Regions from separate parts of the Homo sapiens genome. Here region 1 is linked to region 2. A link means that fine-mapping ties the variant in region 2 to the expression of a gene that starts in the linked region. Tissue or cell type: lung. Region 2 holds a variant in brackets; the other region holds the start of a gene. All regions are shown on one strand. Distances are between the middles of the regions.

Region 1 (8,181 bases), 56 kb before region 2:
AATCCCACCCCCTGTGCAATCTGAGATACAATGTTTTCTAAGAGTAGCTCTAGCTAAATGGCAGAGCCAGAGAAAAGGGAATTATTGGGAGGAGCAGTTATGGTGTGACATGTTTCCCAGGCCATTCTGGCTTCCATGCAGGGACTAGAGAACAGGAAGAGCAACAGTAGTCCTCTTGTTCTACCCTATCCACTACATGGGAACTTTGATACCCGTCTTAGTTTCCTCCTAGAAAATCCTGAGAGACCCCAGGGTGTCACATGTGTACGCCAAGATCTACCCTTCTTGGTCAACACTGTTTTCCTTCTTGCTTCCTCTGGCTGGCAGTGGTACTGTCCCACACTGCTGGCAACCCCAGAAGTGCCATCAGTGACCCCGAACCCTGCTGAAGGCCTACACCTGCTGAAGAAGCTCATGCCCAGTTTGAACCCACTCATGACTGAGCCCAAGGACAGTCTTGTCTGTGCCAAGGGTCCTGGCGGCTGCGTTGAAGGACTGAAGGTGAGGCGGATGCTGTCACCGTTGCTGGTGATGTCGTTTGTTGTAGGTTGAATTGTGTCTTCCAAAAGATCTGCTGGAGTCGTAACCCCAGGTCCCTGTGAATGTGACCTTATTTGGAAATGGGGTCTTTGCAAATGTAACCAAGGTGTAAGTTAAGATGAGGTCATACTGGAGTAGGGTGGGCCTTTAATCAATGTGACTAGTGTCACTCTAAGAAGAGGTAAAGAGACACAGACAGGCACGCAGAGGGAACATAACATCTCCGCCTCAGACCGAGGCAGAGATTGGAAAAATGTGTCTCGAAGCTAATGGATTCCAAAGATTAAACAACTGGAAGCCTGGGGGGAACATGGAAACTGCCCAAATACCAGTGCTGTCAGCTGCCACATGGCCTGTGCCCCCTTGGTGCCTACCAGCATTACAGGGAAAAGCTCATTTTGCCTTTTTTGGTCTTCTGTGGCACTCCCCTTGCCTAGAATCCAGGTACAAACCCATGGGAGGTGGGCAAAGGTAATGTCCTATGAACTTGGAACACCTCCCCTCTGAGCTGCTCCTTTACTCTGCAGGCTACATGGGGTTGTAGCTCCTCCTGGGATGGGCTCTTTCTCCTAGCAGCCTTGACTGTGCACTAGGGTTAATGTGGAAAATCATGAGTTGCAGTGGGCTTTTCGATCGCATATTACTAATTAGAAATAAATTTATCCTCTTAATAAGCATATATCCAGAACAGCTATTAACTCATAGTGAAAGCTGATGTTTGGGGAAATCAGGAATCAAAATATGCTAAAGAAAACACAAGAACTTCAATTTAGCTCAGGGCCTAGTATTCTCAGACCTGTAGCCCTCATGCTGCTCATCCTAGCCTCCAGCCTCAGCTTCCCAGGCAAGGGGGTCACGGGAACATGCCGGCAGCATTGCATCTGGTGCCAGGCTTTCTGCAAGGAGCGTCCACACATTTCTCTCCTGGCACCTGTGCACTTCACATTGTGGTCTCAGCTTCCATGAGGCCCATGGAGGGCAAGGACAGGCCTCAGATACAGGAAGACAGTGGACAGCAGGGGACTTTAAGACCAGTGGCTCTGAGCTTTTTTCTGTTCATCTCATAAAGAGGAACTTGGGCTGGACATTTGGGGGTTCTCACTGGCAGCACAGCTTCTCAAGTCCACCTTGGAGGATAATCCCAGGTGGGAATGGACATGAGCAGGGAGGTAGACATTTCAGCCTGGGGTGAGGTCAGGAGCTGGCCAAGTGGTCTGCAGATGGGAGGTGGTAGTCTCAACTCAGGTATTATTTCCAAACCGTATTGATGAACCATTATCCCTTTAAAGACCCACAGCAAGTTTAAGGTAAAGCTAGCAGCCTCCTTAAGCAGCAATGCTATGACATATGAGAAGTCCCTTAGCAGCAGCCACACAGCAGCTCAAAGGGAAGCTCCTCGGTGGCTCACCTAGGATAGAAAATTCCACCCAGTGCTGGGTGCGGTGGCTTATGCTTGTAATCCCAGCACTTCGGGAGGCCGGGACGGGCAGATCACTTGAGGTCAGGAATTTGAAACCAGCTTGGCAAACATGGTGAAACCCCGTTTCTACTTAAAAAAAAAAATTAGCTGGGTTTGTTGGCGTACACCTGTGATCCCAGTTACAGGCGAGGCAGAAGCAGGAGAATTGCTTAAGCCTGGCAGGCAGAGGCTGCAGTGAGCCCCGAGATCACGCCACTGCACTCCAGTCTGGGTGACACAGCAAGACTCTGGGAAAAAAGAAAGAAGGAAGGAAGGAAGGAAGGAAAGAAGGAAGGAAGGAAAGAAAGAAAGAAAGAAAGAAAGAAAGAAAGAAAGAAAGAAAGAAAGAAAGGAAGGAAGGAAGGAAGGAAGGAAGGAAGGAAGGAAGGAAGGAAAGGGAAGGGAAGGGAGGGAGGGAGGGAGGGAGGGAGGGAGGAAGGGAGGGTGGGAGCGAGGGAAGGGAGAGAGAAGAAGGGAAGGAAGGAAAGGAAGGAAAGGAAAGGAGAGGAGAGGAGAAAGAAAGAGAAAGAAAGGAAAGAAAAGGAAAGAAAGAAAAAGAAAAGAGAAGAAAGAAAGAGAAAGAAAGAAATTCCACCCAGTAAGCTTTGGGCAAAGGGCTGGACTGCTTTGAAGGCACCCTAAAAAAGGAAATGATGATGTGATGATGATGTGATGATGATGATGATGATGATGATGATGACGACGACGTTAAGTTCTCAAATGGTTCTTCCTGTGTTTCTCTTGTTTTTTTTTTTTCCTTTTGAGTACCATCCTCCAGAGAAGCTCACTACCTAGAGAAAAAAGCCTCAACAAAACGACAAATACTTCCTGGTGCCAACAAAGAAAAGCCCACACATGTCTTCCAGCAAAATCCACTTGCTGTTTGCATTTGTGATACGTCTTATTGTTTTGGAATGGCTTTTCCCTGAAATGTTTCCCCTCGGTCCTGTTCTCTATTCCTTTCTACTCTAATTTTCTATTCACTCCCAAGCTGGGGCAGGATGGGGGAAAAGAATGAAAGAAGAAACTATAAACAAAAATGGGAGTGCTTACGGTAAAATTATCTTCACTGTCATGTTCTGTCTCTCAGGGAAAAAAAAAATCACCATTTTGCTTTCTCCACTCTTGACTGTGAAGTTTAATATAAGGTATGGCTCAGTCTTTGTGATGATTCATAACCTGGCTCTAACCAACAAACCATTGGACCATCCTGCGCCTCATCTCTCTCCCCTACAGAGTCTCTCCTTACCTGTCTGGCTTTTGGGGTAAGTTCCTTTCAGCTGACTTCACCCTCGTTTTTCCCACTGTCTCTGTAACAAGGACTTTGAGTAGGACGCTGGAGGGTCCTCACTCACACCGCAGCCTCTACAGCTCCCATGCCCAGTGCCTTCAGATTGTTCCAGGGGTCCCTGCTTTCTTCTATCTCAGGGCCAGTAACTCACAGTGAGGGCACCTTCCGCAGGCTGAAGACAGCTTTGTCTCTTTCTCTTTGTTTGAGTGTTGATGTCCCAAAAGAATGATATCCATCCCAAAGTCCTCTATCAGATTTCTCCCAGGAGGCCCAAAGATTCTCATGTAAATTAGAGTCACATTTGACCTGTCCTGATGGGTGAATAAGCAGACCACTTTCTCCCAGTGGAGAAAGGGAGATTTTTTAATAGGCGACTTACTTTTCCTTGATCCCAGTCACAAACTCTTCCAAACTGACAGAGCTACATAGTAACCCACAAATCTAAGCAACTGTATGGGTGTGTGTGTGTTTGTGTGTGTGTGTGTGTATGTGTGTAAAATTGAGAGACTTTCTATTGTTCTTCAAAAGGTTGTAAAGACGTAACAAATGGGTTTCTCTTTACAGTTCCTTACACGTGGTCTCCCCAGAAAGCACTGAGGACTCTGATTCATCATGTCAAGCGGTCAATTAGAATCCGGGAAAGCCTCTCTCTGGCCTCACCTTACTTCCTGTACCAGGAGAGATGCTCATCAATAGTGAGAAAGAGTTGATGGGATTAGAGTCTGGAAGTGACAACCTCTCCTGAACCTGAACTCATTGATTTCTTCGTTTTACAAAACAGTGTTCTTGAAAAAAATAAACAAAAAAAGGAAATAATACAACTAAGAACTCCAAGGTCTAAATTTTAACCAGCTGTATCTCATAACAACAGAAGCTGCAATGGCCAACATACGTCATTTATAAAACGCCAACTTATGTGGATGGGGATTGGGATTTATTGGCCTAATGCAAAGAGCATATAAAAAATGAGTAGGGAAAAGACTACTGTTTGTGTATATATGTAATTATTACATATATTCTTAAATGATATTTAATAAATAATCAAATGATTAAATAATATATACTATATATACATGTTATATTTATATATGTATATGCTTCTCCAAATTTCTTTTTGCTAAAAAGCACTCAGCTGGGATTATGAAATCAGATGTCAAGATTAGAATATTAGCAGTCACTTTTTAAATCAGAACACAGAACAGATCCCTAGACTGAGCTGTTCCCAGAAAAAAGGTTTTCCCTCTCCCCAGACCAGGCAGGTAGGAATGTCTGCAGAGATCCCTGGACACACAGGGACCCCTGCCAAGCTTTTCCTGCTCTGTACATTGGGGAAGGGGACTACAAGTCAGCCCTGGTGGTATGGGGGAGGGGAGTGGTACCGCAGTGACAGGAATAATGCCACTGTCCTGCTGAGTGGGAAAGGAGAGGGCAGAACCCGGACTCGAAGGCCCACCTGTGGAGTGGGTCTGAGATTCCCAGCCTGTGTGTCTCGGTCAGCTTGTCTATTGTTATCAGATGTGGGCTGTGCCGCAGCATCTGTGACTTCATCCCGTGGTGGCTGGAGTCTGGGATAAAAGTCATGGTTGTCCCAAAGGTGCAGGCAAACTCCACCCCGGGGAGCTGTTGTGCTTGCATTGCTGGGCTGCTGATAGACTGATTGAGTGGTGGCGTGTACTTTTGTCACAAGAACCATAACCACAATGACAGCCACACAGCATGGACCTAGCGTGTGCTCAGCTCTGGACAAGACATGGATGTAGGCAGACATGCTTCCTGCCTGCTGGGCTTAGTGCACCAATGCTAAGGACAGACATGAAGGGCTTGGGAAAGGCATGAAGATGCAGGGAGTCTAGGAGAGAGGATAAGAAAAACAAGCATTTTGTGGTGGGTTGAATTGCGTTGTCGTTTTTAGAGGCATTTCGTGATCCATGGTTGCGCTCCCGTGAAGAGCGAGTCTAGAGAAGGAATCCGAAGGTGGGTGAGAGTTGAGGGAATTTGAATTCCATAATTACGACTCGAATTTCTGCAATCAGCTCGCGGCTGTGTTGCCTGCTCCTGCCACAAAAACGCCATGCAGCGCCGAGCCAAGTCGGATGGAAGTGGGTTAGGGTATTATATAAGCCCTTGCGGGAGGGAAGATGGTCTTTTATGTGTGTTTCTTTTGCAGCGGCGGCGGCGAGCGCGGCTCAGGTTGATTTAGAATACGGGTGACAGTGGCCTGGCGCGAGCCCACTGCTGACGAAAGCGGCTTATCCCGCGCGGTTTCCATGGAGACGAGCCGGAGCCGCGGCGGCGGCGGGGCTGTCAGCGAGCGCGGCGGAGCTGGCGCGTCCGTGGGGGTCTGCAGGAGGAAGGCGGAGGCCGGGGCCGGGACCGGGACCCTCGCGGCAGACATGGACTTGCATTGTGACTGTGCCGCCGAAACGCCGGCCGCCGAGCCGCCGTCGGGGAAGATTAATAAAGCTGCCTTCAAATTATTCAAGAAGAGGAAATCGGGTGGCACCATGCCCAGCATTTTTGGGGTCAAAAACAAAGGGGACGGGAAAAGCTCGGGTCCGACGGGGCTGGTGAGGAGCAGGACCCACGACGGACTTGCCGAGGTGCTGGTGCTGGAGAGCGGCAGGAAGGAGGAGCCGCGCGGCGGGGGCGACAGCGGCGGGGGCGGCGGGGGGCGGCCGAACCCGGGGCCCCCCAGAGCCGCAGGGCCCGGCGGGGGCTCCCTCGCCAGCAGCTCGGTGGCCAAGTCGCACAGCTTCTTCTCGCTGCTGAAGAAGAACGGGCGCTCGGAAAACGGCAAGGGAGAGCCTGTGGACGCGAGCAAGGCCGGCGGCAAACAAAAGCGGGGGCTGCGGGGGCTGTTCAGCGGCATGCGCTGGCACAGGAAAGACAAGCGGGCCAAGGCGGAGGCCGCGGAGGGGCGCGCGCCCGGGGGCGGCTTGATCCTACCCGGCTCGCTCACCGCCAGCCTGGAGTGCGTCAAGGAGGAGACGCCCAGAGCCGCGCGCGAGCCGGAGGAGCCCAGCCAGGACGCCCCGCGAGACCCAGCAGGTGAGCCCGCAGGGGGAGAGGAGGTGCCCGCCCCCGCCGACCGCGCCCCAGCGCGGAGCTGCCGAGAGGCAGAGGGCCTCGCGCACCCCGGCGACACCGGCGCCCGGGGAGAGGACGCCGCGGGGCATCGGCGCGCCGAGCCGGGGCCCGGGGAGGTCCGCACGGCAGAGGACGCTTCCAGGACGGGGGCCGTTCCCGTAAAGACGGTCCCCCTTGTCGACTCCGAAGGCGGCAGCGGCCGGGCGCCCGCCGCCCCAGACCCTGCCTCTGTCGATCCACCCTCAGACCCGTCGGCAGATCGTATTTGTTTGATGTTTTCTGACGTGACTTCACTGAAAAGCTTTGACTCTCTTACAGGCTGTGGAGATATTATTGCAGACCAAGAGGAAGAGGCAGGTCCCAGCTGTGACAAGCATGTCCCCGGGCCAGGCAAGCCGGCTCTGTCTAAAAAGAACCCCGGCGTGGTGGCCTACCAAGGAGGCGGGGAAGAGATGGCCAGCCCGGACGAGGTGGACGACACCTATCTACAGGAGTTCTGGGACATGCTCTCCCAGACCGAGGAGCAGGGACCCGAGCCCCAGGAGGGCGCGGCTAAGGTGGCAGCTGCGCTGGAAACCAAGGTGGTGCCCGAGACCCCCAAAGACACCAGGTGTGTGGAAGCGGCCAAGGACGCGTCCTCGGTCAAGCGCAGGAGGCTCAACCGGATTCCCATCGAGCCCCATCCTAAGGAGGAGCCCAAGCACCCGGAGAAGGAGCAGCAGGAAGGCGTCCCCAACAGCGACGAGGGCTACTGGGACTCCACCACGCCAGGCCCAGAGGAAGACAGCTCGAGCAGCGGGAAGAAGGCGGGCATCCCCCGGGATAGCTACAGCGGGGACGCGCTCTATGATCTCTATGCTGACCCGGACGGAAGTCCAGCAACCCTTCCTGGAGGGAAGGACAACGAGGAGACGTCCTCCCTGTCCCGGTTAAAGCCCGTATCTCCAGGCACCATCACCTGTCCACTGCGAACACCAGGCAGCTTGCTGAAGGACTCTAAGATCCCTATTAGCATCAAGCACCTGACCAACCTTCCATCTAGCCATCCCGTGGTGCACCAGCAACCCTCCAGGAGTGAGATGCCCAGAACAAAAATCCCGGTTTCCAAAGTGCTGGTCCGCAGAGTCAGCAACCGGGGCTTGGCTGGGACCACCATCAGAGCAACGGCCTGCCACGACAGTGCCAAAAAGTTGTGAGGTCTTCCAGGCCAAGGTGGATGGGCCCCATGCCAAGGAATACAACTTTTCCCTGGAAACCACTAAAGTAAGTTTTGCTTTTCCTAAAGAAAGTCTTTTAGGACACCACCCGTCCCCCGCCCTGCTCCAGAGCGTGGACCGAGGAGGTCTTTGTGCCCTGAGCAGGGACCGGATAACACCAGAAAGAGGGATGCTACACGGGGGTTTCTCCTCTCAAGATAAGTCCCTGAGAATTATTTTCAAGCACTTTTTTCTTTTTTACCTTTAAGTTTTTCTTCCTTTTGCTTTAATATACTGAACACTTGGAAGTCACCTTTACTTGCCTTTGCAGAAAACAGAACTTAGCCAAACCTAAGTAAGAGTCATGCCTGGATATTGGGATAAGCCAGTGTCTAGAGGCCTGAAGGAACCGCTGAAGAACCAGAGGAGATCTCCTCTTCCAAGACACGTTTCCTTCCTTCCCTTCTTTCCTCTTTCCTTTCCAGTTAAAAAAAAACAAAAACAAAAACAAAACCCTTTGCTGTATCACTGTGTGGAAAATACCTCCAAAGCTGAAAGAGCCAGGTATTTACCTGATGAGCAGAGGGGACCACTGATTGGCAGAAAAC
Region 2 (8,181 bases):
TGGGGGCTTCAGGGTTTTCCCCAGTGCTGTCTTTTATTGTGGCAGGGCTGGTAGTAAGTTCCAAGGCAAAATCTTCTGTAACCTTCTCTCTCCTTCTTCTGAGCAGAAGTCTCTTTCCACACTGTTCTGCTTGGAGTTGAGAGTGGTGTGATGTGAGCACTCCCATGGCTGCTGCAGCTGGTGTCAGGCTGGGTTGCACCCCAAGCCCACGACCTCTCAGACTAGTTCAGCACTAGGGCTTACCAAAGGACCACGGTCACTAAGGCCTAGCAGCCACTTTAATTGGCCAGTGATGAAGCAGGCTGGAAATTGGGTTCCTCCCACTGGGGTGGTGGATTCCTCTGTGGCCTGGGGCCGATCTAAATGTTCCATTTGTGAGCACTGGCCTGGAATCAAGGGCATAGAAGTCTGCCCAGTGCTATGTTCCACTGTTGTGGGGCCAGCAGTGAGCTCTGAAGCAAAGTGCCGCACTCACCTCCCTCTCCCTTTCCCAAGCACAAAGATTCTCTCTCCACATTGAGCTGCCTGGTCCTGCGGGAGGAACAGTGCAGGCAATGCGGGATTGTCCTTCCTACTCCTTCAATGCCTCTTTTCTTGTTACTATGATAAACCGGGTCCTGTGATCGCTTACCTGATATTTTAGCTCTTGTGAAGGTGTTTTCTTGTGTGTGTTTGCACTCAATTCAATGTCCTGCAGGGGAGGGTGGGGGCATGATCACTGCATGGTTCTATTCAGACATCTTGCTCTGCCTTGGATTTCAGCTGAGTTTTATTGATCCCTCTATTCCCAAAGCCTGTGTTCAATAAATGAAAGTTCACAGAATAAGGGAATGGTGAATTTATTACAAGAGCTTTAAGGGGTTTCTTTGTTTTCTTCCTTTGCTTTTTAAATAATGCATGAACAGGGCAGATTTTCTTAGGAAACCATTGCCCAAGGGGTGATTCACATGCTTGGTGCAGGAGCCACAGGTCCCTGAGTTGCAGCCTAGACACCCTAGGTTTCTCTCCTTTCTCTGTGTTGACCCTGGGCAGGATCAGGAGATTCAGCTGTCATGAGGTCATTAGGAGCATGCCACAAGGAACCCTGGGACAAGGCTTCAAGGGTCAAGCAACCCTTTCCCATTTTGGAGAGTCAGGAGAGACAGGGTGTTAGCTGCAGCCAAAAGGACAAGACCAACTTTACCACTTTCTTCTTTCAGGAGGAAGAATTCACTGAGTGAATTAGTCCCATTGAGCCTCAGCTTGCTCCTCTGTAAAATGGGACAATAATTCCTTTATAATTGTAGAGTATGGGGAGGAGTACTCTAAGCCAGTGCTCTGGGACTATGGCCTCTTATTTCTTGTCAGTAAGAATTTTTGTATTTTTGCCTGATAGTGCCAGGCGCACAGCCAATACTTTGTTTGTGGTGTAATTTATTTATATTCCTATTTCTCCCACCAAAATCAACTCTTCTCTGGCTTTGAAATCTCAGTGTGTAACACACAGTAATGATTCAGTAAATATTTGTTGGATGAATAAATGAATATGAAAAGAAATATAGAAAGGTCCTGGGAAAGGTGGTGCACACCTGTAATTCCAGCACTTTGGGAGGCTGAGGTGGGAGGATTGCTTGAGCCCATGAGTTCAAGGGCACAGTGAGCTGTGATTGCACCACTGTTCTCCAGCCTGGGTGACAGAGCAAGATCCTGTCTCAGAAGAGACAGCCAGCCAGACACACAAAGGAACACACACACACACACACACACACACACACACACACACACACAGGGAGAGAGAGAGAGAGAGAGAATTACATTAACCACAATACCACCTTCAACAGGACCCATAATATATTTGTGATTTGTTGTGAGGTTTTCAAATCTTATTCAAGTGTTGAATTAATTGCTGGTGCCAAAATTCGGAGTCACTTTAAAAAAGGTAAAAATTCAGCATGTGAAATTTGTTTTTTGACCTAGAGAGAGAGAGGTGTGCTGAGAAGGCCCCAGGGGAGCAGCCCTCAGCAGGAGGGTGGGTGGTGTCTCCTTTTGTCTGAAAAGGCAGGTGTGGTTCTCAAAGGAGAAGCTGTCCACCATCAGGGAATGGTGTGGAGGTAGGAGAAGAGAAGTGATTGCAGCCTGAGCCAATTCTGAGCGAGCTCGTGGGCGTCGGAGTTTGGCCCTGTATGGGAGGCAGGAGGAGTCCCCGGAGGGAGAGCGTTGGCAGTGCCCGTGGTCCATGGGTCTAGAAGCTGCTGCTCGTCATAGTGTGCTGGCTTCGTCACAGGCAGGGTGCTACCCGCTACCAGGCTCACTCTCATGGTGGTTCTGGGGATGATGTGCACTCACTATGTGAGTTGGGGGAGACACTCTCTTACCGGGATCTGGGATTCACTTGCTGAGCTGCTTTTTATTCATCTTTAAAGTTGTTTCAAAATTTGCAGGGAGAGCTTGCCAGGAGGAAACATGGAAAAAAATAAAAATAAAGCAAAAGCTTACTCAGAAGTTAGGTGAGCCACCATGGAATTTACCACATTACCTTAGGTTAATAAATAAACATAAAATTCTTACCAACGTGAAATAAGAGGCCACAGGAGCATGCAGAACATCATGATCTTGCAGAAAGAGATGAGGCTGTCGGCAGATGTTCCAGCCAAGCACTTCCTGCTTTGACATCTCGGTAAAATGCAGGGTTATCTGCAAAGCGGGTCTGAGGGGAATCAGCGTTTCCATTCTTAACATCTCAAATACCAACTGCAAAGAGGAACTTGAGAGTTCTTAATTGCAAAACTATGTCACATAAGAAGGTAGCAATGTAAAAAACCTCCGCATGGTAGAACTTAAAGGAACAGTAGTGAAAAATCTATCCAACCCGCTCATTTTCAGATGAGGAGGCAGAGGCATGGAAAGGCCCCACAGTGACAGAGCCCATTGGTTGCAGAATTGGGATTGCTGTCCCCACTCTGGGCCTCTTTCTGCAACACTGTTGCTTCTCCTGAACAAGTTGAGTAGCAAAATAACAATTTTATGATTTATAAATATATCTAGACATTCCCATAAACCTCCAACTTCATGGGTTCCTAGCTGGGAGTCTCTCTGTAACAAAAGGCAAACTAACAAGAGAAAAACAAACGGAAGTTTAACAATATGTGTATCTCCTGGATACCTGGGTGATGACCCAGAACAATGAGGAATTCTCTAGAGTAGACCCCAAAGAGTTTAAATGTCATGCTTAAATGCCATCTTTGTTTCTTTGAAGCAAAGAAAGAAGGGTGCCTATGCCTGGTGGATCTGGAAAGGCTTTCTAAGTTTTTCCTACGAGGTGCACTTCATAAATTGTGTTGAAATGTGATCACCAGCATTCAGAGGGACGAGGTCCTTCCTGAAAGGATTCAGGTGGACCTGGAACTGTGCCACTGGGAGAGCTCCCCTGAGTGCTTACCTGAGAATGGAAAACTGTCCTGAGAAGCAAAGTACTGTGGACTTGGGACCAAGGAGCAGCCTCGGGCAGTGCAAAGGCACATGCCCTAGGGGAAAGGAGCTGTGCTTGGCCTTGCCTTAGAGAGAGCAGGAGCAGGTTTATCAGCCAGCAGCTGCACTAAAGAAAAGGACAGAGTGGCTCCGGCAAATCTTTCCAGAGTGTGAGGGGACCGGGGGCAGCACTGGGGCGGGGGGTTTGCGGTGGATCTGAAACAGCCATGGTGTCACACGCGAGGGCCCCGCCCGGTCTACTCCCGTATGCTGAGGCCGCCCAGGCATTCAGGTGGCACTGATTGCATCAGACACAGAGCCCAGGAGCCTGACCCAGTCACGAAAGCACAAGGCCAGCCCGGGAGGACAGGAAAGAGCCGAGCACAGAGCTCTGGGCTCTCATGAAGACTGAGAAGCAGCAGTCGGTGAAAAGGCCGTGCTGGGATTCCCAGGGGCATCAGCAAAACAGGGGCGCAAACATTTTAAAACATTTTTAAAAAACTCACCAAAGTTCTGATTTTGCAATGAAAATATGGAAGAAGCCTCTTCCAGCTTCAGCGCACATGCCCTGCTTGTCTATTTTTGTGGCACCACAGCGTCGTCAGTGCTTAGGGCCTCTAAATCCTTACGATGTGGCTGAGAATGAGGCTCGATGAGGGCTCCGGAAAGAGAAGACAAAGAAAGCAAAACCTCATTAGGCTTTTGGACATCCAGGAAAGAATGTGCATTGAATTTTCCTTTTGGTGCCAAGTGAAACTGAAGATGCCCCCATTTTTGCCAAAACTCACCCTCCCGGCGTTTTCACACCAGCCTTCTCTTCTCTAGCCCGGTCTCCCATCCCGAGGACTGAGAAGGCAGGGTTAGGCCCCACCATTTGCCTCATGATCGCGTTTCTGTGGCTCATTCTCCACCAAAATCCATTACTCCTGGTGCATCTTTTCTGGTCTCATGCCTCACAGCTTTAATTCACCTTCATAAAGATTGTTCCAGCTGGGCACAGTGGCTATGCCTGTAACCCCAGCACTTTCGGAGGTCGAATCTATAGGATGGTTTGAGGCCAGGAGTTCAAGACCAGCCTGGGCAACATAGTGATGTTACCGGAAAGGAGTCCCGATCCGGACACCAAGAGAGAGTTCTTCGATCTCCCACAAGAAAGAATTCAGGGCAAGTCCACAGTGCAAAGCAAAAGTAAGTTTATTAAGGAAGTAAAGTGGTGAAAGAATAGCTACTCATAGACAGAGCAGGGCGTTCTCGAAAGTAGGAGGGGAAACAC[G/A]TCCTCCCTAGGTATATACAGGATAAATCCTGTTTACATATGGGATAAAAAGAAAGATTGTGGGGAGATGTACTCTGCTACAAGGGTTTATGATAAAGGGTTAATTTTCTTAATTACTTTATTTTGCAAGAATTGATGTTATCTTTAAAGCAAAATTAAGAATGCTTCTGTTCTCAAGATACTGGGATATCAGGACACTCCCAAGTCTGGGTCTGTTTAGTAAACATTATCAACCTGTTCCCTTAACGGTAAACACCTAGAGGCTAAGAATACCTAACTTTCTGGGAATGCAGCCCAGCAGGTCCCAGCCTCATTTTTCCTAGCCCTCACTGAAGATGGAGTCGCTCTGGTTTGAACGCCCCTAACAGGGAGACCTAGCTAGAAACCTATGAAGGGTGGAGGAGAAAATTATTTTCACTCCCCTACACAGGCACTCTCATTCTCCTAGTTATCTAGGTTTATGTCAATGGAACATTTTTGAGTCTTTCTTCTCTGGCAAGTTAACATTTTTGTCAGTTATTTGGTCCTGTAAATCTTCCTTTCCCAGTGGCCTCTGAAATCTATATTTTCATTTCTCAAAACAAAATTCCTCTAGAATTCATGTCCTTATGTTATTTTATGTTTGGCAAGTAACGATATCAATTGATACATGTTTTGGGGGATAAATGATGGAAGAAAGTTCGTTTGCAAACCCTCATCAGAGGAGGAGTAACTGGGAGGCAGGGACAATGTGTGAATCATCCCCAGGATGTAGCAGGTCCTCTATACAGTCTGACTGAATGCTAATTAGAAGGAAAAGACAGGAGAAGACACCCACCTGGCCTTTCTTCCAGTCTCTGCTCTTACTAATCTAGCCTATTCAGTGTTCACAGATATTCACATTTCCATGTTCAAAATGTTCAGTCTCCTGTTAAATAAATCCTTTCTGTGTCATCCAAGGATTCACATATTTGACTGCAAGGCAGAAGAGAGGGCGGGGTGTGTGTGTGTGTGTGTGTGTGTGTGTGTGTGTGTGTGTTGGGGGGTGTCTCTGAGTTCGTGTGTGTGTGTGTGTGTGTGTTGGGGGGTGTCTCTGAGTTTGTGTGTGTGAGTGTGTGTGTGTGTGTGTGTGTTGGGGGAGTGTCTCTGAGTTCGTGTGTGTGTGTGTGTGCGCGCGCACATGCGCGTACCTGTGGTGGGTGCTTAGAAGATGAGACTAGACTGTGAGGAGGTGCAGGAGGACAGCAGACAGCCCCGCCATCTCACCATTTCCCCCTTGGTATTCCTCTGGGTCACTGAAGCTTTCTGAATCTTGAGAAGGGTGACTTGATAGATCAGGGAGCATTTCCATGTATTTCCAGGGCAAGTTTGCACCCAGGCGACCTCCTGTATTGGGAATTCCACCCAGTATTTACCTTTGGCGGAAGATCTGCCTTCAGCAACTGCCCAAGGTTTACAAAGTGGGTTGGGACCACTCCCTGGGCCTCTGAGGACACCACCTCCTGTGGGGTTACTGAGTTGAGAGAGCCCAAACAGAAGAGAGGGCTGACCAGGGCCAACCCTTGGAGTGGGCATGGAGCCTTTGTCCAGTGAGCTCTCAGGAAGTGGGCTCTGAAACTGCACAGAGGGAGGAAGAGGAAGCAGCGCTGATTATTATTAGTTTATTTTTGGACAACAACCCTATCAAGCACCCTGACATCATGAAACTGGACAGGGAAGACACCCAGCCCTCTGGTGATCAGACGCCATCCTGGCTGGGGTCCTGGGGCCCCAGCCGGCTCCCTCTAGCTGAGGGTGGGCGGGTGGCCTCGTGCTTCTGCCACTGTGCTTGAAAACATGCAGAGGCAGGCCTGGGGCCCCAGGAGAGGATACTGTGGGCTCCGCACCTATTTCTGTTTTCAATGGCGGAAGGAAAGAGGGAGACAAGTTAGGGTTTTGATATCTAAGACGGGTTCCACTCATTAGCTATTGTAGTCACTTATAATACAGATCAGGAAGGATGCCTTGCCTCCTAGATCAAGCCTTCATTATTTCAGCCCATTTCAGGGAGCCTTTTCCTCCTGTAACCACATCCACACCCGCAAATGCAGCAGGGCTGGCTTTGTCAGTCAGTGAGGTGAATCAGCTGGAGGTGATCTGAATTTTAAAACCATCTGCTCACTGCTGCTGAGCCTGGACTCTCCAGAAGATGGCAGCAGTGGGACACTGTCACCCAGGAGTCAGGCTTTGGCGGGACTAATTCCTCTTACTGGAGCCTGTATTACTTTGCACTACCAGTAAAAATATTCACTGTATGTAGAACAGTAACAACAGGATGAGTCTTTTGTTCAATATGATTGAATCGTATGGTGGAGAAACAGAAAAAAAACACTTTTCCTGTGGTCTCTAATTCAAGTGCTGGGTGTTATGTCCCAATTTCCAGAAAATACATCTTGCATATGCTGTTGGAAATCTTTGCTTCAATAATGAATAAGATCTGCTGCTTGAAAACTTGCTTTTGCTACAAGAGCTGTGAAACTGCAATTTGGGTTTTCTCATGTCTACTGTAGACTCTCAGTAAAGAGGAAAAGTTCTTAATATTTTTTCTCAGAAAGGACACTTGTTTTTTTTGTTGTTGGTGTTGTTGTTTTTTTTTTTTTTTTTTTTTTTTTTTGCAGAGCCTCGCTCTGTCATCCAGGCTGGTGTGTAGTGGCATGATCTCAGCTCACTGAAACCTCGGCCTCCCGAGTTCAAGCAATTCTCCTGCCTCAGCCTCCCAAGTAGCTGGGATTACAGGTGCGCGACACCATGCCCGGCTAATTTTTGTATTTTTAGTAGAGATACGGTTTCACCATGTTGCCCAGGATGGTCTCGAACTCCTGACCTCGTGATCTGCCTGCCTTGGCCTCCCAAAGTGCTGGGATTACAGGCGTGAGTCCCTGCGCCTGGCCAACACTTGTCTTTTTCTTAGACGGGGGAAGCTTTAACTCGGTTGTTTTAGTGATAGTTTAAGAGTTAATTTTACTCCTAGAAAGATGTCATTCAGTAGGATTGCATATGCTCTTCTCATTAATATAAATAGACCGAAGTCTATTTATATTAATGAGAATATATTTCGTATAGTAATTACTATACAAAAATGCAAAGCTTATTAAATAAATGCCTGTATTAGAATGTCTGTATATGTAAATATATATATTTATAGTTTAATATATTGTTTATACTTTAAGAATAAATTATATATACTATAAACATCTGATATATAAATATGGATCACAGATCTCACATAGTTGGAAAGTTCTTTCAACTTAATTTCATTTTATATTAAGACTGCAGACAACTGTTATATTAGAGGTCTGTATCGTAGCCAAGTGATATTTTTAAAAGCAAGCCAGTCTATGGCTGGCTGTTTCTAGCTGGCAAAGCCTGAAGCTAATTCTGAAGCACAGGGCACCTTATGTTAGCAGATTGTCGTGAGTAATGGAAATTGCACTTGGGATGAA

The links. PIP is the estimated chance that this variant, and not a neighbour inherited with it, causes the effect.
Region 1: it holds the start of AMER2, and the variant in region 2 is the best candidate, but not a certain one, in a credible set for the expression of AMER2 in lung (TOPMed, PIP 0.71).

What each region holds. Positions count from the first base shown.
Region 1 is chr13:25,168,996-25,177,176 of GRCh38, reverse strand. AMER2 (APC membrane recruitment protein 2) reads left to right here and starts at 4,889. Exons shown (of 1, transcript NM_152704.4): 1 at 4,889-8,181. The coding sequence starts at 5,558. The coding sequence ends at 7,573. LINC00463 (long intergenic non-protein coding RNA 463) reads left to right here. Exons shown (of 4, transcript NR_120428.1): 2 at 328-501; 3 at 3,090-3,264; 4 at 3,855-4,353. RefSeq lists an enhancer at 2,831-4,030 and a silencer at 6,310-6,399.
Region 2 is chr13:25,113,070-25,121,250 of GRCh38, reverse strand. It overlaps LOC124900613 (a long non-coding RNA gene), which reads right to left. Exons shown (of 3, transcript XR_941762.3): 3 at 4,024-4,106. LOC105370120 (a long non-coding RNA gene) reads right to left here and starts at 4,032. Exons shown (of 3, transcript XR_007063728.1): 1 at 3,954-4,032; 2 at 2,548-2,673; 3 at 1,816-2,426. The variant G/A (reference allele first, on the strand shown) is at 4,721.